Linked DNA regions of Homo sapiens. The protein of the gene in region 3 purifies or fractionates together with the protein of the main gene of each other region. This does not show direct contact. Each region holds a gene or a part of one and is shown on either strand. Other genes may lie near its edges.

The links.
Region 1: the proteins of ACSM5 (region 3) and PDPR purify together in Homo sapiens (affinity purification with mass spectrometry; 2 studies listed by BioGRID and IntAct, with this or other methods). This does not show direct contact.
Region 2: the proteins of ACSM5 (region 3) and CPS1 purify together in Homo sapiens (affinity purification with mass spectrometry; 2 studies listed by BioGRID and IntAct, with this or other methods). This does not show direct contact.
Region 4: the proteins of ACSM5 (region 3) and PCCA purify together in Homo sapiens (affinity purification with mass spectrometry; 2 studies listed by BioGRID and IntAct, with this or other methods). This does not show direct contact.

What each region holds. Positions count from the first base shown.
Region 1 is NC_000016.10:70,117,320-70,124,343, reverse strand, and holds part of PDPR (pyruvate dehydrogenase phosphatase regulatory subunit, mitochondrial isoform 1 precursor), read right to left. Parts: intron 6,858-7,024; exon of another isoform or gene 5,249-6,857; intron 3,884-5,248; 5' UTR 3,852-3,883; coding exon 3,625-3,851; intron 1-3,624. UniProt on the Homo sapiens protein: Decreases the sensitivity of PDP1 to magnesium ions, and this inhibition is reversed by the polyamine spermine.
Region 2 is NC_000002.12:210,551,811-210,559,599, reverse strand, and holds the start of CPS1 (carbamoyl-phosphate synthase [ammonia], mitochondrial isoform b precursor), read right to left. Parts: upstream 3,002-7,789; 5' UTR 2,882-3,001; coding exon of another isoform or gene 2,867-2,881; coding exon 2,741-2,866; intron 1-2,740. UniProt on the Homo sapiens protein: Involved in the urea cycle of ureotelic animals where the enzyme plays an important role in removing excess ammonia from the cell.
Region 3 is NC_000016.10:20,405,049-20,412,549, reverse strand, and holds the start of ACSM5 (acyl-coenzyme A synthetase ACSM5, mitochondrial), read right to left. Parts: upstream 3,017-7,501; 5' UTR 2,885-3,016; intron 1,081-2,884; 5' UTR 1,066-1,080; coding exon 862-1,065; intron 1-861. UniProt on the Homo sapiens protein: Catalyzes the activation of fatty acids by CoA to produce an acyl-CoA, the first step in fatty acid metabolism.
Region 4 is NC_000013.11:100,092,073-100,099,096, reverse strand, and holds part of PCCA (propionyl-CoA carboxylase alpha chain, mitochondrial isoform a precursor), read right to left. Parts: intron 1-7,024. UniProt on the Homo sapiens protein: This is one of the 2 subunits of the biotin-dependent propionyl-CoA carboxylase (PCC), a mitochondrial enzyme involved in the catabolism of odd chain fatty acids, branched-chain amino acids isoleucine, threonine, methionine, and valine and other metabolites.

The DNA.
Region 1 (7,024 bases), about 50 Mb from region 3:
TTGCCCAGGCTGGAGGGCAGTGGCACAAACTTGGCTCACTGCAATCTCTGCCTCCCAGGTTCAAGCAATTCTCCTGCCTCAGCCTCCTGAGTAGCTACAATTACAGGCTTATGCCACCACGCCCAGCTAATTTTTGCATTTTTAGTAGAGACGGGGTTTCCCCATGTTGGGCAGGCTGGTCTTGAACTCCCGACCTCAGGTGATCCACCCACCTTGGCCTCCCAAAGTCGTGGGATAACAGGCATGAGCCACTGCACTTGGCCGAGGCATAATTTTTTTTTTTTTTTTTGAGACTGAGTCTTGCTCTGTCGCCCAGGCTGGGGTGCAATGGTGCGATCTTGGCTCACTGCATCCTCCGCCTCCTGGATTCAAGTGATTTTCCTACCTCAGCCTCCCGAGTAGCTGAGATTAACAGACGCGAATAACCACTCCCAGTTAATTTCTGTATTTTTTAGTAGAGACGGCGTTTCACCATGTTGGCCAAGCTGGTCTCGAACTCCTGATCTCCGGTGATCCACTCACCTTGGCCTCCCAAAGTCCTGGGATTACAGGTGTGAGCGATCGTGCCTGGCTGGCGTAATTATTTTTAAGTGTGAGGTTTAAATAGTCTGCCTTATATCAATTCTAAGGTATTATATAATCTTGAAGCAACAAATTAAACCAAAAATGAACCTCCCTAGGGTCTCCCACTTAGAAACATTTACACTGCGATTAGTTTATCACTTTTTGTGGAAATACCTGATAATTAAATTTAAAAGGATTTCAAAAAATAGGAGAAAGACTTTGACATCAAGGAAGCATTATGAGGCCAAGTGTGGCGGCCCACACCTGTAACCCCAGTACTTTGGGAGGTTGAGGTGGGCGGATCACTTGAGCCCAGGAGTTTGAGGCCAGCCTGGACAACAAGGTGAAATCACGTCTCTACCAAAAAAACAAAAAATTAGCCAGGCATGGTAGTGCATGCCTGTAGTCCCAGCTACTCAGGAGGCTGTGGTGGGAGGATCACTTGAGCCCAGGAGGCAGAGGTTGTAGTGAGCTGAGATTGAACCACTGCACTCCAGCCTGAGTGACAGCGTGAGACTCTGTCTCAAAAACATTAACAAAAACAAAACCCACTTTTGCTCTTAAAAGTATCCACTGCGGGCCGGGCACGGTGGCTCATGCCTGTAATCCCAGCACTTTGGGAGGCTGAGGCGGGTGGATCAGCTGAGGTCAGGAGTTCAAGACCTGCCTGGCCAACATGGTGAAACCCCATCTATACTAAAAATACAAGAATTAGCCAGGTGTGGTGGCATGCAACTATTAATCCCAGCTACTTGGGAGCCTGGGGCAGGAGAATCACTGGAATCCGGGAGGCACAGGTTGCAGTGAGCCGAGATCACGTCACTGCACTCCAGCCTGGGTGACAAAGCAAGACTCTGTCTCAAAAAAAAAACTATCCACTGCATAAAATAGAAATCCATGAGTCTAAACTGGTGTGTGTGTGTGTATGTGTGTATACAGATATATAACTGAGTAAATAAATGGGGGAGAAGGAAATCTCTTCCTGACAGTAATATGCCAACTATAATAAATGTAGAAGTATGATCAAAAAATCACCATTTGTCAACCATCACGGTGGTGGCTGACTCAGGCAACAGTTGTCAATGGATGCTAAGCCCGGTAGGTGGAGGTCTCATATGAACAGGATATTGGCATAATCTCAGAATCCATCTCTCCTCAAAGGGCACTGGCCCATTACAAGGGGAGAAAACAGGGTCTCTGTGCTAGAGATGCTTGGAGGACACCAATGTAACTGAGTGACCAGGTTTATCACCACCAGAAGTGAGACAGGACAGCCATACACCTCCTGATGTGGTGCACTGCTGAGAGTCCAGCCTAATTTCTGTGGTCTTACTGCCAAAAATGTATGACCTGGTTATGATGATGGATGCACAACTCTGTAAACAGATTTCAGCACTTAACAAGGATGAGTGGCATGGTATGCAAATTGTATCTCAATACAGTGATGGTTATAAAAGTCTCTAACCCAAGTCTGATCACAAGACAACAGCCTAGGCCAGGTGTGGTGGCTCGCGCCTGTAATCCCAGTACTTTGGGAGGCCAAGGTGGGTAGATCACTGGAGGTCAGGAGTCCAAGACCAGCCTGGCTAACACGGTGAAATCCTGTCTCTACTAAAAAAACAGAAATTAGCCGGGCATGGTGGTGGGTGCCTGTAATCCCAGCAACTCGGGAGGCTGAGGCAGGAGAATTGCTTGAACCCAGGAGGCGGAGGTTGCAGTGAGCAGAAATTGCACCACTGCACTCCAGCCTGGGTGACAGAGCCAGACTCCATTTCAAAAAAAAAAGAAAGAAAAGAAAACAGCCTAGGCAACACAGGGAGATCCCATCTCTACAGAAAAATACAACAACCAGCCAGATGTGGTGGTGCATGTCAGTAGTCCCAGCTACTTGGAAGGCTATGGCAGAAGGACTGCTTGAATCCACGAGGTCAAGGCTACAGTCAGCTGTGATAGTGTGACTGCACTCCAGCTTGGGTGACACAGCAAGACCCCATCTTAAAAAAAAAAAAAAAAGGGAATAAGAAAACATTAGCTAAACACAGGTTGAGAATTATCAGAGTCAAAGGCCTGTATTCTTTTTTTTTTTTTTTGAGACAGTCTCGCTCTGTCACCCAGGCTAGCGTGCAGTGGCATGATCTCTGCTCACTGCCACCTCCGCCTCACGGATTCAAGCGATTCTCCTGCCTCAGCCTGCTGAGTAGCTGGGATTACAGGTGCACACCACCACGCCCAGCTAATTTTTGTATGTTTAGCAGAGACAGGTTTTCACCATGTTGGCCAGGCTGGTCTAGAACTCCTGACCTGAGGTGATCTGCCCACCTCAGCCTCCCAGAGTGCTGGGATTACAAGTGTGAGCCACCATGCCCGGCCAATATTGTTGTATGAATCTAACATTACTTGTATAGTGGTATAATATTAATTAATGATGGATTATAAGAATCCATTCTGTAATCTCTGTAACTATTACAAATTAATATAAAGGGACTTAGCTTACAAGCCAATAAAGCAGAAAATACTTGACCTAAAAGAAGGCGAGCACAGAGAAACTAAGCCTATAGAGCATATTTCTCTTGGGGAATGAGAACAATATTAAGAACCTAGCAATTAAGCAAACACAAGCAGTTGTCTACTTTGCTTAAATGCAATCCACATTATTTACAAACGCAAATTTTTGTCAAAGTCTAAAATGTTGCTGGGTACAGTGGGTCATGCCTGTAGTCCCAGCACTTTGGGAGGCCAAGGTGGGAGGACTGCTTGAGGCCAGGAATTCAAGCTCAGCCTGGGTAAGAAAGCGAGATCCTGTCTACCAAAACACCACCACCAAAAAAAAAAAAAAAAAAAAAAAAAAGGAAAACGAAATTTGCCAACTCTCTAAAAACCAGAGAACATGAGCATTATTAGTCATCCTTAAACAAAATTCAGGAGATTCCACCTTGCTTCTTCTCATGCTACTTAGCAACATTTAGATTAGCTACTGGTGGGGCAGTATCTCTGAAAGGAGAGGGAATCTTATACGATTAGTGCAGCACAGCCATGAGCCAAATGCAGTCTGATCCTTACCTGCCCTGCTCCAAAAGGACAATATCCTTCCACCCCATTTTGGAGAGGTGATAGGCCACAGAAGTGCCCGTGATTCCACCTCCACAGATGACCACCTGTGCCTGGGTGGGCAGGGCCATGGAACGCGCCTCGGCAGCTGACGTGCTGTTTCTTGCAGAGGACCAGTTCTGCCATCCTGGGCTGGCTCTTTGTCTTCCAACAATCGACAGCAACCGGTAGAACATCATGTCTCTCACCAACTAGATCTCAGGAACTCAAACTAGACAGAGAAACCAAACATATTTCATGCCATTCTACTCAGTGCATGGGATTAATGAGAAAGGGATTTGACAAAGAACGATAGCCATTCATTCAGCAAATATTTGAGGGTGGCTGGGCATGGTGCCTCACACCTGTAATCCCAGCACTCTGGGAGGCCAAGGCGGGCGGATCACGAGGTCAGGAGATCGAGACCATCCTGGCTAACACAGTGAAACCCCGTCTCTACTAAAAATTCAAAAACTTAGGCTGGGCGCAGTGGCTCACACCTGTAATCCCAGCACTTTGGGAGGCCGCGGCGAGTGGATAACGAGGTCAGGGGTTCGAGACCAGTCTTACCAACATGGTGAAACCCTGTCTCTACTAAAAACACAAAAATTAGCTGGGCATGGTGGCAGGTGCCTGTAATCCCAGCTACTCAGGAGGCTGAGGCAGGAGAATTGCTTGAACCCGGGAGGCGGAGGCTGCAGCGAGCAGAGATCGCGCCACCGCACTCCAGCCTGGGCGACAGAGCGAGACTCCGTCTCAAAAAAAAAACAAACAAACAAACAAAAAAAAAACAAAAAAAGAAATATTTGAGGGCATTCTGAGTTTCAGATATTCTGCTAGCAGTGAACAAGAATGGGGAAGTCCCTGTCTTTATGAAATTTACATTTGAGAGTTTGCGTGTGTGAATGAGGAGAACACCAATCAATATACAAATAAACATACAAATAAAACAGTAAATAAAGCTAACATGATAGAGTAACTAGGGGCATATTTAAAACAGGATGGTCAGAAACAGCCTCCAAGGAAGTGACATTTGGAAACAGACCTGAAGGATAAGGAACGAGCTATACATTTGGCAGACACTGAGACGAGCATGTGCAAAAGCCCTGAGGTAAGACAGACCAAGAACAAAAAGGAGGCCGGCATGTACACGACACGGGGAGTGTGGGGAGATGATCTAAGACAATGCTGGAGAGGCAGGCGGAAGCCAGTTACACACAGCCCTTGGGTGCCATCAGCAGGAGTTGGAATTTTATTCAAAGTACAAAGGAAAATCACTCATGCGGGAGTATCACTAGCAGGGGAATGAAATGATCTGGGATGTTTTTCTTTTCTTTGTTTTTTTTGGCGGTGGGGGGTTGGGGGATGTTTTCCAAAGGTCAGTCTGGCTCCATGGTGGAGAGCGGATGGTAGAATTATAAGAAAAACAGAGTTGACTTCCTAGGCTCAAGTGATCCTCCCACCTTGGTCTCCCAAAGTGTTGAGATTACAGGCATGAACCACTGCCCTTGGACAAGGCAGGGTTTTAACAAACTTAATCTATCAGCAAAACAGATGACTGTTCAAGTTTCAAGAAACTGAAGAAGAAAGCACCTACTGGCTGTCCATGCAGTCATGTGTACAGGAGGATGAGGACTTTGAGACGAGAGGCGGTAGACAAGGGGGCCTTAGGGTAGCTCACTGCTAGTCATCTCCTTACCGCCTCCACTGCCAGCCACAGGACCCACAGATGCTCCACAGTCAGCACAAATTGTCCAAGGCCAAGGTATCTATGTCCATCCATCAGAGATGACTCTCAGAATTGCAACCAATGCAAGCACAGACTGTGTCCAGGCAGACATCCCATCCAACTGGAGACAAATTGTCTTGGCCACCTTGTGGTTGCCACCATGCCTCTCATCCCTGGTCCCTGTTAAGCACCATCTCAAAACAGAAGCTTCTCTACCCGGCTAGTCTTTCCATAATCTCATCTCCACGTGACCAATTTATTTCCCGTGGCCCAAGCTCTCTTTGCTTTCCTCTCCTTCAAGCCCCTCTACTGCACCCTCCAGAATACCTTTCCCAAAGGTAAACACCCACCCCTTTGCTGACATTCTCTCTACCCTCTGTCCCAATGGCAACACAGCTCTCCTGGGGAACTGCTGCTGCCAAATGGCCAGCCCCGTCCCATTGACCTCACTGTCAACCTCCTGGCTTCTGACCCGTGACCACTCGGTTATACTTGAAAACTGTCCTGCTCCTTGGTGGCTTAGGCTAGCACATGTTAAGCCACAGGCAGACCTCTGTCTGTATTCAGGTTCAGAGCCCAGCTATTCCTCTCTCAACCTTCAATTTCACCTCCTTTCTTCCCTCATTCTAAGCAGATAACCTGGCTCATCTCATTCCCTGAAACCCTTCCTATAGACCCACTTGCATCTGCAACCATCTCTTCCTTCCTTCTTTTATCCACTGGAAAGTTAATCTCCCCCAAGGGCCCTGGATCCCACTTCCTCCTCTCTTCTCTTGACCCTAGCTCCATCAACTGCTATCTCTCTTTCATGTACCTGCAACGTTTCCCTCCCTTTTTGCTGCTTTTCCTCAGCAATTTTTTTTTTTTTTTTGAGACAGAGTCTCACTCTGTCGCCCAGCTGGGAGTGCAGCGGTGTGATCTCGGCTCACTGCAACCTCTGCATCCCAGGTTCAAGCAATTCTCCTGCCTCGGCCTCCTGAACAGCTGGAACTACAAGCACGCGCCACCACGCCCAGTTACTTTTTGTATTTTTAGTACAGACAGGGTTTCACCATGTTGATTAGGCTGGTCTTGAACTCCTGACCTCAGGTGATCCACTGGCCTTGGCCTCCCAAAGTGCTGGGATTATAGGCGTGAACCACCACACCCACCTTAATGACTTTCTGATGCCCTCAGGAAAAAGGCAAAACTCTTTTCATATCAAGTGCAAGATCCTTCACACTCTGGTTCTTATCTGTGGTCTCATTTCTCCTTTCCTCACACTCTGACCAAACCAGACTGAACAACCTGTAATTCGTCAAACATATCAGGTGAGGCGTGAGTGTTCTATTCGGCTCCAGGTTCTGTGCATGCTGTTCCCTCCTGGCATGGTTCCTGCCACCTCTCCCCCAAATACAGGTAATCTCCTCAGGTCACAGCCTCTTTGACATCTTATTTATTTTTTTTGAGATGGAGTCTCGCTCTGTCGCCCAGGCTGGAGTGCAGTGGTGCGATCTCAGCTCACTGCAAGCTCTGCCTCCTGGGTTGATGCCATTCTCCTGCCTCAGCCTCCTGAGTAGCTGGGACTACAGGCACCCACCACCATGCCTGGCTAATTTTTTTTTTTAATTTTTAGGAGAGACGGGGTTTCACCATGTTAGCCAG
Region 2 (7,789 bases), on a different chromosome or scaffold from region 3:
AAAACTTTTTAGTATTTAGTATTTTATGGTTGTTGATCATTTATACCCTTGATATCAACTTTCTTTAAAATATAGAGCACCTTGAAATTCTTTCCTCTTTCCTGTAAGTAAAATACAACTGTGCCGATTGGCAAAGCACTCTATAAATATTAGCCGCTGACAAATACCCAGGGAAGGGCCACATAAAATTATAAGTGCGTCATTGCTGTCGTCAAACCCACCGTCTCTGTCATCAAAGAGAGAGGAAAAGCAAACCTCTAAATATGTCGAAAAAGCAACCCAATTTACAGGGCAATGATTATAGATGTGACTACAGGGTGTCTTTCCCAATCCATTTACCATCTATAACTGGACATAATGCTACTAACCTTTAAAGTGACTGTTCTCAGTGCCCTTCACTGACCATTATGTAACTACATCCTAATGATTTTAACTATCTTTAAAATATGATGTCCATCTAAAAATAGTAAATTTGGATATATTTTTCTAAGACAGTTGAGTTTTTAAAGTGAAGGCAGGAAGAAAAGTAGATAGAGGACTATTTCACAATAACTGAATAATAACACAAGTCCCCTTGGGCTGTTCTATGGAATTTTAATTCACTATTGTGAAGTTCAAGAACTTCTATTTTTTGTGCTTGGCATTCCTCCAAAACTCTGGCCAGTAATGATTGAGTGTGAGTAATGGCTTTTACACCATGAAATGATGGCTTAGTGCTCCTACAAATTTGTCATTCTTAGCTGTGCACTGTGACAGACCCTTGAAACAGATCTGTCACCATGAGCTAGAACTGCTTTCACAGTAATCCATCCACATAATTAGACCATTTTGTCGTGGTTGTGATTGTGGTGGTGGTTGTATGGAGCACTTATTGTGATCTTGGAGAATTGGATTCTAATTTCAATCATATCTGTGCCATTTTAAGTAAGTACTCAATTTCGCGGTTTCTGGGGTCTGATGAAGATGCACCTATCCTTACCTACATACCTACCTTCTCACAGAGTGAGAAGAAGATATTCCAAGTCACCCAACTTTGAAGTATTAGATGGCACATATAATCATAGGGGATAACTTTCATTACTATTGATTTTCTCTGAACTGATACATGAGTACCTTGAGGTATTACTAACAATAAATTCTCATAGTTTACATCTAGTTACAATGTCTTTGATGTTAGTTTAGAATATTCTCCTTTCCCATTCTTTTGCTATAATTAAGCTAAATTCAAGAAAATATATATAACTAGACATAATGCCACTAACCTTTAGTGACTGCTCCCAGTGCCCTTTATGGCCATTATGTAACTACATCCTAATGATTTTAACTATCTTTAAAACATGATGTCCATTTAAAAAGAGTAAAATTGGATACATTGGAATATGTAACAACATAAAAGACATTTTCCTTTCTGGTTTTCTTAATTTAAAATGGTAATTTCCTATACTCTTGTTAGAATCTTCTCAATGTTAAAGGCTGAAGTTGTTAACACACCACTAAGGCTACTATATGTATTTCCTCTTTTCTCCTGGGATCTTGAGCTAGTTTCTCTCTCTTTCTCTCTCTCTCTCCCTCCCATCCCTCACACTTCTCCCCTTCCCCTCCCCCTGTCTCCATCTCTCTTCCTTTTCTTTTACTCCCATTCCTTTCCCATCCCTATCCCTGGCAGCCACAGGAATCTATGAATATTCCTTGGCCTTGCAGGTGTCAGGACCAAAACCCCACTGAATCCTGACTTGAGCAACTGAAACAATAGAAGCTTAGTCAACTCAATGAGCATGCAAAGTATAAGCAGAACACTCCAAACTGTGAGTTCCCATTTTCACATCAACAGACAGAGGTTTTCTTTTGTTTTTTCTATTTCAAATTTTACAGCTTTTGCTGCTAAAGAAGCAATATATCTAAAGCTAATATAATTACTTAAACTTATAGTCACTAAAGATTATTTTCATTGGCAAAGTTCCTATGGAGTAACTTCAGGCTTCTCTGATAATGAACGTCTTCATAAAGTTGCAGGAAGGAGCAGAGGTTCCTACAGGAATTTCATAATTCAATGCTGGGGGGCAGGAAGAAGGGCAATTAATGTTTCTTTCCTGGGCTTGCCCTCTCAATTATAGATACCTGTGGAGGGACAGAATTATCAGCTGCTATCTGCCTCTATGTATTACTCTACAAAATGAAAATAATAAGTTTAGCCTGCCCAAAAAAACAGCCAGAAGGAAAAGGAAAAAGCTAAAGCAGTGTCTACATGATGACCTGCAAATCTCAAAAACACATATTTTCTAATTATGTTTTTAAAATGTTTAAATGATATTTCAAAAGAGAACTTTTCAGTAAGCCCTATTTATAGAACAGACCTTAACACACTGTGTACCATAATGTGGCTCACACACATATAAGCAGCTCCATTTTTTAAATCCAAACTGTAAGCAATAGTATCTAGTCACAGAAAGCTATCTATGAAAGAAAAGATGTTTCTTTTTCAAGCAGTGTACTTACATTTTACATGTTCACAAGAATTGTCATCATTCTTTATGTTGGGTAAAAATTACTGTCATGTTACTCAGATAAGATAAAAATTAGCATTTGCTAAGTCAGTAGGTTCCACAGTAAAGGAAACATTAATACATTAGTACTTCAGAGCTACATTCAAAACTGTATTTGCCTTGTAAGGGACACCTTTGCTTCACTGCTAAACTATACCCCATAGTATTTTATCAGAAACAATCAATATGGGTATTACCTTGACAGAAAGGAGCCTGATGCCAGGTCTTGAAAATTTCCATTTTTGGTGTGCAGTCACATTGGTAAAGCCAAAACCAGTCTTCAGTGTCCTCACCACTTTGAAAGCTGTCAAAATCCTCGTCATTTTGATGATTTGTGGCTAAAATTAAATGAAATTACATAAATTTTATGAGATTGTGTGATAAGACTTTTTAGTTAATGTAAAAGAAATCTGGGAGGGGTGCAGTCAGTGTTTAAGGCTGACTGCACAGCGATCTTTGAATTTCCATTCATTCTGCCATTAAATGTCTTCAGCCACAGCTCCTCCTTCTCTTAACCCCTCCTCCTGAGGTAATGTCCAGAGATGTTCCATGGGCATGTAACACAAATTGCAACACATCAAATACTACCTTCTCCTGCTAAAATAATGCTGGGGTTGTAGAAAACCAGCCATCCATCAAAGGAATTGTTTATGCAGCTGAATGGAATGACCTAGACATCATGGACAACCTTATCCTAAAGAGTAGCAACTTTCCAACATGCTAAGGATCACAGGCTTTTGCTTATGTCACATGTGATACCTAATATGCCTCATAAGAGATTTTGGATTCCCAAAGAAAGCTGAACGCTTGCCATTTTCTGTTGGGGTAAAAAGACAATGTTCTTTTTACAAAAAGTAAAAATCAGAGCATCCTACAAATAGCATTTTTACTATTTGTAAAAAGAACGTTAGAATAAACTTTTCTCCACAAATATACAATAAACCTATCTATATTATGTTTTGGGTTAATAGAGTAGTATACTACATTCTTACTATAGCATTGTTCTGTGTTTCAAAGTTAAAGCAATCAGTAATATCAAGTAAAACACAACTAAAGCAAAGTGGACTATTATATCCCTCTTAAGCCTCTTAGATTTGTAAAAACTTCATGAAACAATGACAAACACTGATTTTAATATAAGCACTATTCCTAAGTCAAGTTTTTTTAGTTATTAAAATGTTATATATAAAATTTTCCAAACTTCAGCATTCATATTTCAACATGAATAAAAAGTGATTCACTTAACCCTTCAGTCCCATGTTTAACCAGGCTCTCAAGGGGCCTCACTGGCTGGCAGATGCTCTTGCTTAAGTCACATGACTATGTAGAACAGGAAGTACTGCAGCAGTGTTCTTTGATACCCTTGCAAAGAAGGCCAAGGAATAAAGGCAATAGACTCATACCTAGGTCTTCTCATAACAGAAAAGATGACAGAAAATGACATAAAGATTGTAAGCTTCAATAACATAGAATCAGTGCTAGAGTTGGGGTAAGGATTTTTTTAAAGAGGAACAAAGTTTAATTTAAGTCCTCACGCTTACTTAATATATTCAAGTACAAACAGTATTTGATTTCAAAGTGCTTCATGGCTCCTGGTGATAGAAAGCTAAACAAAATAGGCTCATACTAGTTTATACAAATAATTAATAAAATAACTGGTGCCATGAAAGTTGCCCAAATGCAATGGGAAAATAAATAAAATGGGGAAAATAAGAAAGAAAGATCAAGTTCCTTGTGCATTTTCAGTAAAGTTTAAGCATAGAATTATGTTGAGCTGTGTTATACTGAAGGATGCAAATTCACCAAGTAGATAAAGAGGGGAAAAAACCCAGAAGGGATGCCGTGGCATGAGCAATAGCCTAGAGGCATGAAGTCATGTGGTATATTTTTTAAAAGCCTAGATGCAGGGTATAGAATGGGAAAATGAAAAGGTACCATATCATGGGAGACTTAGTATGCCTTAAAATGTTCAGCCTTCATCCATAAATAGTATTCATAATAGTCATGGAAGTATTTTGAACAAGAAATAAAGGCGAAATTTGTGTTGAAGATCATTGAAAAATGAATTGGAGGAGAATGAAAATAGCAAAAGGAAAACTCCCAACCTAGAGAACTGAGGACTGAGAAGCAGTACTTACTGGCTTAGTCCAATACTAGTTTACGCCTTGATCTCACCTCTTGTCTTTTTATGTGTGTGTGTGTGTGTGTGTGTGTGTGTGTAGTGAGGGTTGTCTTTCCTTAATTAAGAAAACGATATAAACTCAATCCTCATTATGGAAACTTTTCTTTTTAAGTTTTTTTTTCTTTTATTATTATACTTTAAGTTTTAGGGTACATGTGCACATTGTGCAGGTTAGTTACATATGTATACATGTGCCATGCTGGTGTGCTGCACCCACTAATGGAAACTTTTTAGGATGCAAAATAAATTTAAATCAGTCATAGTCCCATTACCCTAAGGTACCCATGCAATGAATACTATAATATATTTCCTCCCTTCATCACTTATGTTTTAATCAAATATGACAGTGGAAGTACTGAGGAGTCCAGAGCTTGACCAAGGAAAAGACTTCATCACCATTTATAGCAGTTGACTACAAAGCATGATGAATTAAACATGTTTTTCCATAGAAATGTCAACAATCAACAATTCTAGGATAGAATTCTCCTACTCTAAAGTCTAGAGAGAAATGTGGGCATGAGAGTTTTAATGGGCTTTCATTTTTATCAGTAAAGGGTCCCAGATGCAGACTTGCAAACTACGGTGTGTGTGTGTATATATATACATACATATATATATGTGTGTGTATATATATACATACATATATATATGTGTGTGTATATATATACATACATATATATATGTGTGTGTGTATATATACATACATATGTATATGTGTGTGTATATATACATATATATATGTATGTATATATACATACATATATATATGTGTATATACATACATATACATATGTATGTATATATGTATATATATTTTATGGTCCATGTCTTTAGTCATCAGAATGAAGGAGGAGAAGGCAGAAATTTTGGAAAATTTGATTAAATATTCTGAATTAGAGACTTGGAAAATCCATCAATTATAATTCCACAATGGAGGTTGGAACAGCCAATAAATAAAATAGTGGCTAGTTTCATACTTGAGTGTTCAGGCTAGACTGAAATCTATAACCAAACTGGAAAAAAATATATTACACATTAGTGAGGGAGTTTACATTAGGATAGATCAAAGGAGTTGAGGCTATAAGAGTTGGTTGGTAGGGAATGTTAAAGTCAGACATGAAAAAATTTAGTGGAAATGTTACACTTTTAGGACAGATTATTTTTCAAAACATTTTAAAAAATAAGCATTTTTTTCTTCTCTGACCACATGTACACAGTCCTCCTTCATATAAGCTGTCTGCACGCAGCTGAGCAGAGTGACAGGCATGAATGCAGGCACACACATCAGGCTGGGGACCCTGTGTACTTGGAAGTACATTCTTTGTGAGCCAGGTCATCAAAGGTTTTCTAAACTTATGAGTCACTCTCTGATAAAATGAATTTTTTTTTTTAGATTTAGTCTTCTTTTCTATTAATACATTTTAAAAAATAGAAGCATTTAGCCTGTGAAATCCCTCAGGGCACTTTATTTTATGAATTCCTTATTGACATATCTGGTATTGAAAATGTTAAAATGTCAAGTACTAGGTTGTATTCACTTTCATTTGATATTTAAAGAAATGTGGAAATACAGAATAATAGATAATAACCCACCACACAAACATAATCTCTGTTAACACTAAAGTATTATCTTCTAGCATTTATGTCAATGCTCAGAACATAGTTTTGAAAATTGCCATTGACTTGCATAATGCTTTTTGGAGGCAATATTATGTTAAATGTATTTTGATGTTATTACAAAGTTCTTTTAAAACATTACTTTAAATGATTACAAAATATTCCATTTTCATTGCTGCTACAATGCATGTCAATATTGCCATATTTGATTACTATTTACAAATTTCTCTCCAAAGAGAGTGTACTCACCTACATACCAGTGCAATATATGGGTGTCCCTTTAAAAATGTCCTCACCAACATTATGTATTATCTTTCATTTTATTTGCTCCGCTGTAGAAAATATTATTTTGCTTTCATTTCTATTTTAAATCACTGGTGAAGTTGAATACTTCACAGTATGTTTTTAATTGATACTATTCTTTTATCAACTACTGTTTACATTTTTGTTTCCATTAACTCATTTATATTAATCATTACGAAAATGTCTTTAAAGGAAACATAAAGAAACACTGACAGCCTGTGTCTATACTGATTTAAACAGTCCACTTCTCAAACAGTCCACTCTTCATTTAAACAGTCCACTGACATAAGCAAGGGAAGACCTGCTACAGATTGAAAAAAAAAATGAGAACAGGATGTCTTAGAGAATAAAGGTCTTAGGTTTTGGAATGAAGAGAAAATAAGGGTGTTAGTAATTCCTTTGAAGGTACAGAGACTTCCAACTGCCCTCTTGAAATGTTCCTAAGTAATGAATCAGAAACAACTCTAAGAAGTTGGTGCATCTATCAAAAAGTCTCTAACATAGCAAGCATGCAAGAGATGCTTCTGGAAAAATGACTGAATGAATGGATTGCTGTGTGCTTAATTCCTGCCTGATCAGTGATGATTATTTAAGCAGGAACAAATAAAATTACATCAGTTAAGCATGAGAGGAAATAAGGATGCTTAGGAGTCATGAAAAAAAAAACCTGGCAATCAATAATTCTATAAAGTCTATTTTTGAAGAGATACATTAAAGCAAGGAGTAAGGTATGACTGGAGAGCAAACAAATTCAGAGTAAAAGGAGGTGCAATAACTCCCTGAAGAAAGTTCTACTGTTTTGTGTTTGACCAGAAATGTGTGAAAATAGAATATAAAAGGTAGAAGTAATTGGGTTCAGTTCTATGATTTTTATTAGCCTTAGTATCATAACAAGGAACACGGTCACAATTAAAGATATGGATGAAGAAGGCATCTCTGAGGGAAAGTGGTGTGGATTGTACCCATGTAAAAGGCACACATTTTCTCCTATCACAGAAACTAGGACAAGCTGGTAGGAGGATTCCTCAAAGTTTGGCCAGGAAGAAGACTTAAAGTTGTTTGAAAACCTTCCCAATATGTCAAGGATTGAAAATGACAGACAGATATCATGTTGTTAGATGATGAGGGTTCAAACTAACCAGAT
Region 3 (7,501 bases):
AACCATGAAATAGAGAGACCCAACAGACACAGATATAAGGGAAAATAAAGAAGAAAGCAGATGCACAGAGACACACAAAGAAATCAGGGTTATCTTATTCAATTCTATGTATCTGTTATGATCTGCAAAAAGCTTTGAGCCTGAGCCCTATTCTTTCCTTATTTTATTTTGTTTTGTTGTATTTTATTTTATTTTTTGAGGTGGAGTCTCACTCTGTTGTCTAGGCTGGAGTGCAGTGGCATGATCTTGGCTCACTGCAACCTCTGCCTCCCGAGTTCAAGCAATTCTCATGCTTCAGCCTCCAAAGTAGCTGGGACTACAGGTGTGCGCCACCATGCCTGGGTAATTTTTTTTTATTTTATTTTTAGTAGAGACGGAGTTTCACCATGTTGGTGAGGGTGGTCTCGAACTCCTGACCTCAGGTGATCTGCCCTTCTCGGTGTCCCAAAGTGCTGGGATTATGGTCATGAGCCACCGCGCCCGGCCTTCTTTCCTTATTTAGAAGAGAAGGGCGTGACAGTGAGAGAAAAACATCAAAGACAGAGTAGCAGCAAAACAAAACTTCCTCCTTCAGTTGATGAACAACTGGAAGGGAATCGGAAGGGACATAACTGTCTCACTGTGTGATTTGGGCTCAAGAATGCAGGACACTTCAGAGAAGGAACAAGCATGTCTAAGGCTCACAACACTGACTCAGAATTTTTTCCTAAGTCTCAAATGCCAACAGTTTACATTTTAGAACTAGCAAAATTCCCAGGTCCAAATTTCCTCATCAACATGCTTGGAGCCTTGAGTCTCATTGTGGTACATGAGGGCAGCCTCAGATGCCCCAGATGGACTCTAGGACAGAACAGGCTTCACCTCTTCCAGCCGACTCCACACATCCAGCACATCATGGGCGAAGTTGAAGTACTCAGGCACCAGCTGCCTTCCCAGGCTGATGGCTTCCCAGGTGGCCACGATCTTCTGAGGAACAGGTAGAGGTGCTGGCTTCCCATGAGACCCACAGAATGCCCTGGAGTTCCTCAGTGCCTGGAGGACTAGGTGTCTCAGCCATGGTCTCATGCAGTCGCCTCCTGTCTGTCACCAAAGAGAGGAAAGAGGGCATTGTCATAAATTCTGGGCTTTGGGGACAACACATAGGTTAGGAGAAACCTGTGGTTAGTGCTGATGGTGACTGTGATCCTTACTGACTTGTAGAATAAACTCTCCACCTTCAGTCTCAGTTCTGCTGTGTGATGGTCATTTCTCTCCTCTGACCCCGAGGTCTGTCCTTTTGACCTCTCACTGACTTGTGGGTATCTGGGTCTGAGGTCAGAACTCAGATCCCACTTCTCAAACCTCAATACTTCAAAAGGAATCCCTCAAAAAGGCTTTGGCCAATCCTGAACTGACCTTGCAAAGCTGAAGACAGCTCTAGGGCAGCACTGTCCAACAGAAATAGAACGTGAGCCACCTGTGCAATTTACAATGTTCTAGTACTTCCATTAAGAAAAGTAGAAGCAGGTGAGATTTATTATAATAAAACATTTTATTTAACCAGATAGAGCCAAAGTATGACCATTTCAATTCCTAGTCAATAGAAGAATAAATTGTTAAAGAGATATTTTACATACTTTTATTTATTTTTTGTTTTTTTTGGTACTAAGTCCTCACAATCTGAAATAGACTTTACCCTTACAAACACATGTCAATTTGGACTAGCCACACTTCAAGTGCTCAAAAGCCACAAGTGGCTGCTGTATGGCATGATGGGCTTTTAGTGTCTTTTTAATTTTTTTATTTAATTTTATTATTTTTAAAATTTTTATTATTGTTGTTTTTGAGACAGAGTCTCACTCTGCTGCCCAGGCTAGAGTACGGTGGTGCCATCATAGCTCACTGCAGCCTCAAACTCAAGCAGTCCTTCCACCCCAGGCTTCCTAGTAGCTGGGACTACAGGCACTAGCCACCATGTGTGGCTAACTTTTAAAAAGTTTTTTTGTAGAAACAGGATCTCACTATGTTGCCCAGGCAGGGCTTGAACCCCTGGCCTCAAGTGATCCTCCCAACTCGGCCTCCCAAGTGCTGGGATTACAGATGTGAGCCACTGTGCCCAGCCCAGTTTTAGTGTCTTGCTACTCAAAGTGTGATCTTGGGACCAGCAGATGGGACCCCACCCTACATATGTAGAATTAGAATCTGCAAGTTAACGGGATCTTCAGATGAGTCATATGCATGTTAAAGTTTGAGAGGCACTGGCCCGGGAGCTGCGTGTGACCTCAGTTTCAGTTTCCTTGCATTAAATTCCTCTTAGTAATAATAATAACAAAATATGGTAATAACAACCAACAATAATAACGTGGCACAACAAGAAAAACCATAACAGCTTCAGTCTATTGAAGGCCTACTGTGTACCAAGCATTTTAAGAGTGCTTAGAGGCATTATTTCATGAAATCTTTATAACAACTCTATGCTGTAAATGTTATTTTCTCCATTTAAAGATAAAGAAAATGAGGCTTAAAGGGGAAAAGTGACTTTCAGGTTTCACTTCCTGGAAAAACATAGGCCCCAGCCTCTGCAGTGGCCACCAGGCCTAGGCCTGCAGCCTCAGAGACTTCCTTTCTCTGACCCACCTCTCCCGCCCCTCACCTCTCCCGCCCCTCACCTCTCCCGCCCCTCACCTCTCCCGCCCCTCACCTCTCCTGAACTGAGCTCTGCCCCAGTCCTTTTCCTCAGTCTCCCACCCCTGGATTCCTCAGCCACCTAAACAGCTGATAATTTAGAATCCCCAGGCCTCCTTCCCATTCCCCGACACCATTTCAGATGTCACTTCTTGATTTAATCAGCAAAGGCCTCAGAGGCAGCTGATACCTTCGTCTGAAAAATTTCTTTCCAAATTACCTTGCTCTTGAACCAAAGTAATGCAAAAGGTCTCTGTTTTCTGCTTCAGCTGAGCAGAGCAGGGCTGAGTGGCTGTAAACACTCAGCTCCCTCAGAAAACAGCCTCCCACAGGGAACTTCAGCCCCAAATGCAGCCAAGAGTGGGCAGAGCCAGAACCCAGCAGCTGACACAGTGGCTTCCAGTGGTCAGGGTGCATTGAGCCAGTGAGAGTGGCCCCCTGCCAAGTTTTCTCAGTACTCACAGTGGCTGGAAGATCAGACCTCAACTGTCGTGCCTGGTGGGTGTGCCCAAACTGGTGGATGTATTCCCTAAAAATTCAAGTCGCCATCTAATCGGAAAAAGCAACAGGAAGATTATGACGGGTTTTTTTTTTTGTTTGTTTGTTTGTTTTGAGACGGAGTCTCCCTCTGTGGCCCAGGCTGGAGTGCAGTGGCGCGATCTTGGCTCACCCCAAGCTCTACCTCCCGGGTTTGCGCCATTCTCCTGCCTCAGGCTCCCGAGTAGCTGGGACTACAGGCGCCCACCACCATGCCCGGCTAATTTTTTGTATTTTTTAGTAGAGACGGGGTTTCACCGTGTTAGCCAGGACGGTCTCGATCTCCTGACCTCGTGATCCGCCCGCCTCGGCCTCCCAAAGTGCTGGGATTATGATGTTTTAACAGAAAAGGTGCAATAGTGATAATAATATAAGTCAGACTTTGTTTCTTTTCTGCTTAGAACCCTCCAGTAGATACAGAGAGAACAGAGGAGTGGTTCCAGGGAACGGCTCTAAGGCATCCCTTTGAAGTCATAGAATTGTTCTAAATTTGGATTGTGGTCATGACTGCAGATCTCTGTAAATTTACTACAAAAAATAGTAATAATAATTGTACACTGCCAAAAGAAGTTTTTTGGGTTTTTTTGTTTGTTTTTGGAGACAGGCTCTTGCTCTGTCGCCCAGGCTGGAGTGCAGTGGCGCAATCTTGGCTCACTGCAACCTCCACCTCCCGGGTTCAAGCGATCCTCCCACCTCAACCTCCCGAGTAGCGGGGAATATAGGCATGCACCACCATGCCTGGCTAATTTTTGTATTTTTTTGGTAGAGATGGGGTTTCAACATGTTGGCCAGGTTGGTCTCAAATTCCTGACCTTAAGTGATCTGCCTGCTTTGGCCTCCCAAAGTGCTGGGATTATAGGTGGGAGCCACTGCACCTGGCCCAAAGGTGGTTTTTCGAAAAAGCTTCCTGCAACTCCCTATCTCACTCACAGTCCAAGCCAAAGTCCTGACGATTGCCGGGTGGGATGGCTCACGCCTGTAATCCCAACACTTTGGGAGGCCAAGGCGGGCGGATCACGAGGTCTGAAGATTGAGACCATCCTGACTAACACGGCGAAACCCTGTCTCTACTAAAAATACAAAAATTAGTCAGGCGTGGTGGCGCCTGTAGTCCCAGCTACTCTGGTGGGCGCCTGTAGTCCCAGCTACTCTGGAGGCTGAGGCAGGAGAATGGCATGAACCTGGGAGGCACAGGTTGCAGTGAGCCGAGATCGTGCCACTGCACTCCAGCCTGGGAGACAGAGTGAGACTCCGTCTCAAAAAAAAAAAAAAAGTCCTGGCAATTGCCTACAGGGCCCCACAGGAATTCCTGTGAGCCTTTCGCCTCAAACCTCCTGTCTCAGTCTGCTCCAGCCATACCGGTCTTTTTGTTGTTTGTTCTCTGAAGTTCTTTTTAAATTATTTTTAATTTTTGTGGGTACATAGTAGGTATATACATTTATGGGTTACATGAGATATTTTGATACAGGCATGCAATGCGTTAGAATCACATCAGGGTAAATGGGGTGTCCATCACCTCAAACATTTATCCTTTGTGTTACAAACAATCCATTTATACTATTGTAGTTATTTTAGGTGTATGGTTACATTATTTTTGAAGATAGTCATCCTATTGTGCTAGGAAATACTAGGCCTTATTCATTCACTCTTACTACTTTTTTGTACCCATTAACCATCCCCACTTCTCCTCCAACTCCCTGCAACACTTTCCAGCCTCTGGTAACCGTCCTTCTACTGTCTCCATGAGTTCATTTGTTTTCCTGTTTAGCTCCCACAGGTAAGCGAGAATGTGCAATGTTTGCTTTCTATGCCTGGCTTACTTCCCTTAATGTAATGACTTCCAGTTCCATCCATGTTGTTGCAAATGACAGGGTTATGGGTGTCCTATAGAGAGGATGCTGAGCCATTAACTGCCTATCTTTGCAGTGATTCAAACTTCACCCTGGATTTTTATCCATCACTGTATGTTGTTCCCCTGTGACTCTGTCTCATTTCCTGGCCTGGCCAGTTTGGCCCATTTCCACGCAGGCAGCTCCTCTCCCTTGCCGCCAAGCTTGGCCACAGGGAACCATCTTATGAGCCCTCAATGTCCATTTGCTCAGCATTCAGTCCTCTACTGCGACCCAGGATACAACCTCATCTCTGAATCTGCAGCCAGATGTAAAGATACAATCTCTACCCTCAGAGGGGTGGACGGACTGTTGAACATTATTTCTCCAGCAGTCTAATCTCAATATCGTTACTCTCAATCAGTACTTTTTAGAAGAATATATAATCATAAGTCATGACAAATGTTTCATAAATGTTCAATGAAAGAACTGGATACACTTTATAGACAATATAATCACAATTTTATTTTTAAAAAGTATATATTAATCCCATACGTAACAAAATATGAATGTTTCTCTAAGTAAGATGATGTATGATTTCAATTAACTCATTTTTTCTGTATGTTCTATGTTTTAGAAATTAAATCCTGTTCTTTTCTAATCAGAAAGAAATTAATGTTATTTTATAAAAAGAAGCTTTAAGCCGGGCACAGTGGCTCACGCCTGTAATCCCAGCACTTTGGGAGGCCGAGGTAGGTGGATCACCTGAGGTCAGGCGTTTGAGACCAGTTTGGCCAAAATGGTGAAACCTCGTCTCTACTAAAAATACAAAAATTAGCCGGCCGTGGTGGTGCATGCCTGTAATCCCAGTTACTCAGGAGGCTGAGGCAGGAGAATTACTTGAACTCAGGAGGCGGAGGTTGCAGTGAGCCAAGATTGCACCACTGCACCCCAGCCTGGGCAAGAGAGCAAGACTCTGTCAAAAAAAAAAAAAGCAGCAGCAGCTTTATCAGTAAATGAGTATCATCATAAAAGTGCCTATGTTATGTCAAGAAACAACTGTGTGCAAGAGTGAAGGAAAATGAATGAAGGACATTTGGGATAATAACCCAAGTGTTTTAGTTTGTGACTAACAGTTGACAAGTGTGAAAGATGTCAAAATAATATATGCCAGACTAGATTGTTGATTTAGGCCTGGGAGAAAAAAGAGTCAAACACATCCCAGGAATTATTTGCAAACACAACATCCAGAAAAGGAATAATTGCCAAGAAAAGTTGAAAGGGACATGATGAGTTCAAATTAAGACATTCAGATATTCAGTGAGTGTGGTTCAACCAAAAAGAGCTTTTCTAATAGGCAGATGGAAAACGGTCTTAATAGTAAATGTAATCAATTGATCAAATCCTGGAGAGTAAATGAGAGAGTAACTTATAAAGGGGTGTATTTGAAGTCATGCATTTAAACAAGCCAACAAAAGTATGGAAGTTAAGTATGGAAAGAGAAGAGTGGGGCCGCATGCCGTGGCTCACGCCTGTAATCCCAGCACTTTGGGAGGCCGAGGCAGGCAGATCATTTGAGGTCAGGAGTTTGAGACCGACCTGGCCAATGTGGTGAAACCCCGTCTCTACTAAAAATACAAAAATTAGCCAGACGTGGTGGTGCATGCCTGTAGTCCCAGCTACTCAGGAGGCTGAGGCAGGAGAACCGCTTGAACCCTGGAGGTGAAGGCTACAGTGAGTGGAGATCGCGCCACTACACTGTCTCAAAGAAAAAGAAAAGAAAGAGAAGAGCAAAGCGCTAGGACTAAAACCCACAGATGTTAAAATTTAGTGAAATGAATGTTAGTCATCTCCATCAGTATTTAATAACAGTTGGGCAGCAGATAGCCAAAGGCTGCAAACTCTGACAGTAATAACGATGCTAATAATATCAACAGCCTTTTCTTTATTCATTCAACAAATATTTACTGAGCACCTATCACCAGGTAAGCAAAGTAAATTATGTGGAGTTTAGAAGAAAATTAATGCTATGAAGGAAAATAAAGCCTGGAAGGAGGATGAGGAACGCCTGAGAGGGGGATGGGGCACTTACAAATTTAAACAAAGTGGCCAGGAAAGGCCCAACTGTGGAAGTGACATTTGGGCAAAGACTGGAACGAGCTAAGGGGTGAACCCTGAGTCCACCTGGGTGAAGAGCCTCCCTAACAGGGGAAACCACAAGTGTAGAGGCCCAGACATTGTATTGGAGGACTGGCAGGGACACCAGTGTGGCTGGAGCAGGGTGAGTGGAGATCTTTCTCCCCTAGGAGATGAGGCCAGGGTGGTGATGCGTGAGGGGCTCCTGCCTTCTAGGTACTGAGCTGCTCGTTTTGCATAAATCCTCTTATTTTATCCCATCCCCCTCTCAGGCGTTCCTCATCATCCTTCCAGGTTTTATTTTTCTTCATATCATTAATTATCTTCTAAATTCC
Region 4 (7,024 bases), on a different chromosome or scaffold from region 3:
GAAACTATCCTCAAAACTGGGTTAATGGAGCTATAAAATGATCTCACCAAGGTCAAAGTAAACATTAGTTTACTTCATCTTGCTTCATCTCTAAAATTCCAGGTGAAGGTCTTATCCATGTATTATGACACGGTATTTCATCATGCATTGTAACAGAGCCCATGCCCTTCTCTGAAGACACTTAATTAGGTCTGGCTTTTTCCTGGAAGCACAGCTTTTCTTTCAAATAGACTATTTAGTCTTCAGGATCTTAGAGACCATTCCAATCTTCAGTGTCTGCCAAAAGCCAAGTTGAACACCTAATATTTGAGAGAGATGTTCAAGACTCAAGATTCTCTGGGCTCTGCCTCTGTACTAAGCTCAAGCACCAGGAAACTATACATGTCAACTCTAGAGCTCCATCATCCCACCCTTGACTCTTCCGCCAGGCCATTCTTCCCCATCCCGCTGTAGCAGATGTTGTCAGTGGCCACTCAGATCCTCTCTAACTGCTGTGTTGACAACTAACGGCTCACACCTGCACCCTCATCTCGACCATGTTCCTCAACTATACAGCTCTCCATCAAGCCTGAGAGCTCCCCCGACCCTGCCTGGCCAAGGGCTGACTAACACTGCATTCAAAAGGCCAGTCCCAGCACCTCAAGGTGGGACTTGATTAGTAGCACAATCTGTGCCCTAGAGCTGTTCCATCCAATATGGCAGCCACGAGCCACATTCAGATGTGCTCTAAGAGTAAACTACACACTGGATTTTGAAAACTTAGTACCCAGAAAATGTAAAAGACCTCATTAGTGAATTTTTACATTTACATATTCAAATAATACTTTGAATATTTGAATATATTAAGTAAAATATATTAATTTCACCTTATTTTACTTTTTTTGTTTTTTTAAGAGATGGGGGTCTCACTATGTTTGCCCAGGCTGGACTGCAGTGACTACTCACAGGCACAATTATAGCCCATGGCAGCCTCTAACTCCTAGGCTTAAATGATCTTCCCACCTCAGCCTCCTAAGTAGCTGAGACTACACATCCCTGCCACCACACCTAGCTTCATTGTACTTTTTTTTTTTGAGACAGGATCTCACTATGTTGCCCAGACTGAAGTGTAGTGATAGGATCATAGCTCACTGCAGCCTTGAACTCCTGCATTCAAGCAATCCTCCCACCTCAGCCTCCTGAATAGCTGGGACTATGGATGCATGTCACCATGCCCCACTAATTTTTTTATTTTTTGTAGAGACTGGGCGGCTGGGGGGTTCTCACTATTTTCCCCAGGCTGGTCTTGAACTGCTGGCCTCAAGTGATCCTCCCACCTTGGCCTCTTTGCTTTACTTTGTTAACATAAGTATTCGAAGATTTGTGTTTGTTTGTTTTTTGAGACGGAGTCTCACTCTGTCGCCAGGCTGGAGTGCAGTGGTGCCATCTTGGCTCACTGCAACCTCTGCCTCCCAGGTTCAAGCAATTCTCCCGTCTCAGCCTCCCGAGTAGCTGGGATTACAGGCATGTGCCACCATGCCTGGCTAATTTTGTATTTTTAGTAGAGATGGGGTTTCTTCATGTTGGTCAGGCTGGTCTCGAACTCCCGACCTCAGGTGATCCACCTGCCTCGGCCTCCCAAAGTGCTGGGATTACAGGTGTGAGCCACTGCACCCGGACCATTCTTTTATTTTTTAATTGAGATGTAATTCACATACCATAAAATTCACCCTTTTAAAAAAGTATACAACTCCGTGGTTTTTAGTATATCCACAAGGCATGGAACCATGATGGCTACTGATTCCAGGACATTTTTTATCACCCCAAAAAGACAACCCTTAACTATTCGCAGTCACTCCCATCCCCTCTCCTCCAGGCCCTGGGCAACCACTAATCTACTTTCTGTCTTCATGGATCAGTCTATTCTGGAGACTGCATATAAACACAAAATCACACAATAGCGACCTTGTGTGTCTACCCTTCAAAAGTCACTCTTAATTCCTTCCTTTCCCTGTTTGTACATACCTTACAGATACTGTAGGTTCAGGTCCAATTAATTATTGTTCAAAACAGTTATTGCTCAAAAATGCTAACAATCATCTGATCCTTCACCATGTTAGCCAGAATGGTCTCAATCTCTTGACCTTGTGATCCACTCGCCTCGGCCTCCCAAAGTACTGGGATTACAGGTGTGAACCACTGCGCCCGGCCTCACTTCTTTTCTTAAACCCCATGAACCAACCTCTGCTTCCAAGTTTTCTTCTGCAGCATCCTCACCTCTCTCAGCCTTCGCAGAACTGAAGCGAGGACCTTGCGCTGGATTAGGCTATGGCTTAAGGAAATGTTGTGGCTGGTTTGATCTTCTATCCAAACCACTAAAGCTTTCGCCATATCAGCAATAAAGCTGTTTCACTTTTTTTAATCAGTTGTGCGCTCACTGGAGTAGCACTTCTAATTTCCTTCCAGAACTTTTCCTTTGCATTTACAATTTGGCACAAGAGGCCCAACTTTCAGTCTATCTTGGCTTTTGACAGGCCTTCCTCACTAAGCTTAATGATTTCTAGTTTTTGATTCAAAGTGAGAGATGTGTGACTCTTCCTTTCACTAGAACGCTTAGAAGATTATTAATTGGCCTAATTTCAATATTGTTGTATCTCAGAGAATTAGGGAAGCCTGAGGAGAGGGAGAGACATAGGGGAATAACTGCTTGGAGAAGTCAAAACTCACACATTTATCAATTATGTTTCTCCAACTTATATGGGCGTGGTTCACGGCACCCCAAAATATTTACAATAAGAATATCGAAGATCACTGATCACAGATCACCATAACAGACATAGTAATAATGAAAAAATTATCAAAATGTTTCACAGAGACACCAAGTAAGTATGTGCTATTGGAAAGATGACACCAATACAGTTGCTCAAAGCAGGGTTGCCACAAACCCTCAATCTGTAAAAACAACAAAAAAAAAGCAGTATCTGCAGGGTCAATAAAGCCAAGATATGAGGTACATCTGTATCTGCCTTCAAACCCCACAGCAAGATACTGGCTCTAGCTCCAAAATACATTCCAAGTCTGACCAGTTCTCAGCAACTCCAGTGCCCTAGCACAAGTTACCATCATCTCTAGCTTGGTCTTCTACAACAGCTTCCTGATGGGTCTCTCTGTTTCCACTCTTCCCACCCCAGTCCCCAATCCTACTCCCACCCCTACTAAGACATTCGCTACGTACTAGTCACAAACGTCTTTTCCAAACATAAATTCAATGTGCTTAAATGCCTCCAACTGGACTCTCATTACTAAATTCCAAATACAAGCCCCTGATGACTCTGTCCCGCCTACCCACTCCTCCTCCCTCATCTCCTAAGATCACCCCCTCATTCAGTTCACTCCAACCACAGCAGCCACATTCATCCCTTAATTATGCCAAATGCAATCTCCCCTCAGAGCTTTTGCCCTGGCACTCCTTGGTCTGCAATGCTAGGCCCCCATATAGTCACATGGCTGGCTGGCTCAGTTTCCTGTCCAAATGCCACATGCTCAGAAATGTCCCCCATGGTCTCATTAGGTAACATCCCCAACTCAGCACCACTACCACTCTCTATCCCATTAACCTATCTTTTTCCTTCGAGAGCACTTCTCACTCTCTGAACTTTTCTATTTATACGAGCACAGTCTCCTTACTCAAATGTAACCACAATGGGAGCAGAAACAGTCACAATTATATTCCCAGCTCTAAGTAGTGTCTGACACATACTACGTGTAGGTGAATTGAACGATAGCCCCTAAAATGATGTGTCCACGTCCTGGAACCTGTGATAAAGTGTCTTTGCCAATACAACAAAGTGAAGGATCTTGAGATGAAATCATCCTAGATCTTGTCATGGCCCTAAATCCAATGAAAAGTGTCTTTATAAAAGAATGAGAGGGAAAGACGCACAAGAAGGAGGAGGAGAAGGCAGCCATGTGAAGACAGAGGCAGAGACTGGAGTGATGCAGCCACAAGCCAAGGAATGAATGCAGCCACCAGAAGCTCAAAGAGGCAAGAAAGGATTCTCCCCTAGAGCCTTCAGGCGAAGCATGGCCCTGCTCATGCCTTGATTTCAGACTTCAGGCCTTTAGTACTGTGGGAGAATGAATTTGTTGTTTTAAGCCACCAGGTCCATGGTCATTTGTACAGCAGCTCTAGGAAACCAAAGGTTTCTTGAATAAATAATACCAAAGAGAGGGCAGGCACGGTGGCTCACATCTGTAATCCCAGCACTTTGGGAGGCCGAGGCAGGCGGATCAATTGAGGTCAAGAGTTCAAGACCAGCCAGGCCGACATGGTGAAACCCCGTCTCTACTAAAAATATAAAAATTAGCTGGGCATGGTGGCACATGCCTGTAATCCCAGCTACTCAGGAGGCTGAGGCAGGAGAATCACTTGAACCCCGGAGGCGGAGGTTGCCGTGAGCGGAGATCACACCACTGAACTCCAGCCTGGACAACATGAGACTCTATCTCAAAAACAAACAAACAATACCAAAGAGAGTATGCCACATGGATGCTGTATTAGGTTTTGTGAATGAAATCACAAAACTGTATCTTCCAACATTCTTTAAATTCACTTTTATTTTGATCTTATTAGGTTGATCCCATCAGTTTGTGGGGTTTTTTCTAACGAAAATGTCAATAGGCATTTAAAATAAAGAAACTAATTTTTGAAAGTTATGCAATATGCTTATCTTTCAAAAAATATAATTTTGCTTCAACTATTCAAGAGTGTTGTCAAAAGCAGTATTTTTTGTATATAACACTTTACCATGCTACTAAAATTATTCTCATTAAAGATCAAAGATCTTTTCAAATTCTTTCACCAATCTTTTTTTTTTTTTTTTTTTTTTGAGACAGATTTTCGCTCTTGTTGCCCAGGCTGGAGTGCAGTGGTGCAATCTCGGCTCACTGCAACCTCCACCTCCTGGGTTCAAGTGATTCTCCTGCCTCAGCCTCCCAAGTAGCTGAGATTACAGGCATGCGCCACCATGCCCGGCTAATTTTGTATTTTTAGTAGAGACGGGATTTCTCCATGTTGGTCAGGCTGGTCTTGAACTCCCGACCTCAGGTGATCTGCCTGCCTCGGCCTCCCAAAGTGCTGGGATTACAGGCATGAGCCATCGTGCCCAGACTTTTTTTTGAGACAGGGTCTTGCTGTGTCACCCAGGCTGTAGTACATTGGTGTGATCACAGCTCACTGCAGCCTTGACCTCCTGGGCTCAAGTGATCCTCCCTCCTCAGCCTCCCAAGTACCTAGAACCACAGGCACGTGCCACCACACCCAGCTAATTTTTATTTTATTTTATTTTATTTTGTAGAGATAGCCGGGGGTGGGGGTGGTATCATTATGTTGCCTAGGCTGGTCTCAAACTCCTGAGCTCAAGAAATCCTCCCACTTTGGCCTCCCAAAGGGTTGAGATTGCAGGCGTGAGCTACCACACCTGGCCTCATCAATCTTTTATTCCTTAGCCTCTCTGCACCTGGGACATAGTTAGGGAATATGTTTTAATTTCTTTTTCTCTCCTCTGTACGTGCCATAGTACCTGGAACTTAGAAAATGCTCCACAAACACTTTCTGAGTAAAGAGCTAGATCTCTAGACAAATGAATGAATGAATGCTAACTACTTCTTGAAATTTCTTTCCTAGGTTTGGTAACACTACACTACATTGGCTCCTCTCAAACCATACCTCTAACTCCTCTTGTCTCTTCTTCCTTCTTCCAAATCCTAATTTAGGGTTATAAAACGAAGCATTTATTCAATTAAATATTAACTGACTCACTATATCCGTCAGGGCTCACAGTTCTAACTCTAACTCTAGCCTCGTATCCCTGGCCCAAAAGCCAGCCACTGATACCCAGCACCTCAGCATGGCTCCTGCGGGCATCTAACTCCAGATACCTACAATGAAACACTATGTTTCCAGCCCCACCAAAAAAGTGTTTCTTCCCAAATTCCTTTTTCATCCTTGTTCTCCCACCTACATTTTTTAAAGTTTGGAATCATTTAAACAAATCCTTTTCCCTCACTCTTCATCAAAAATGTCACATCTTTTCCTCTTAGAAAAGGACTAGAGCAGTTTTTACCTCTGTTCTGAACCTCTCAGGAACAGAATAAAATCCAAATGGTAGATGTATAAATATATAAATGTCTATAAACATTTTTTTACACCAGAAACTAGTTTCTGTAATAATCTCAGAAATTTCTTTTCCCAAATGATTTGTCAGAAATTTATCAGCATGTTGGAAACATTAACCTCCAGGCAATTCTAAAGCATTCATATAAGCCTAAACATTCTTTTCCATATTTACTGATTACAAAAGAAAATAATGGATGTCAAGTAACACAGGGCTTAAACATTCAAATTTCATGAATGCATCACACAATGAGACCATGATTCAAATGAGACAATTTGTAATTAGAAAAGCAAGCTGAGGTGGGTGGATTGCTTGAGTTCAGGAGTTTGAGACCAGCCTGGGCAACATAGCAAAACCCCATCTCTACAAAAAATAAAAATTAAAATTAAAAAATAGCCAGGTGTGGTCGTACGTGCCTGTGGTCCCACCTACTTGGGAGGCTGAGATGGGAGGATGGCTTGAGCCCAGGAGGCAGAGGCTGCAGTAGGCCAAGATCATGCCACTGCACTCCAGCCTGGCCAACAGAGCCAGACCCCATCTCAAAAAAAAAAAAGGAAGAAAGAAAAGAAAGCCTTCAGAATCATATTATCTAAGGTTCAAATTCTACTTCAGCCAATTGTGCTTTTAAGCAACTACTTAACTGCCCTGAGCTTTGTTTCCTCTACTGTAAAATTGGGATTTTTTACCTAGTTGTTATAAGGATAAAAGATATATGAAAAATCACACCATTGGGCTCGGTGGCTCATGCCTGTAATTCCAAGCACTTTGGGAGGCCAAGGCAGTGGATCAAGAGGTCAGAAGATCGAGGTGGCCAACATGGTGAAACCCCATCTCTACTAAAATACAAAAAAAAATTAGCCGGTGGTGGT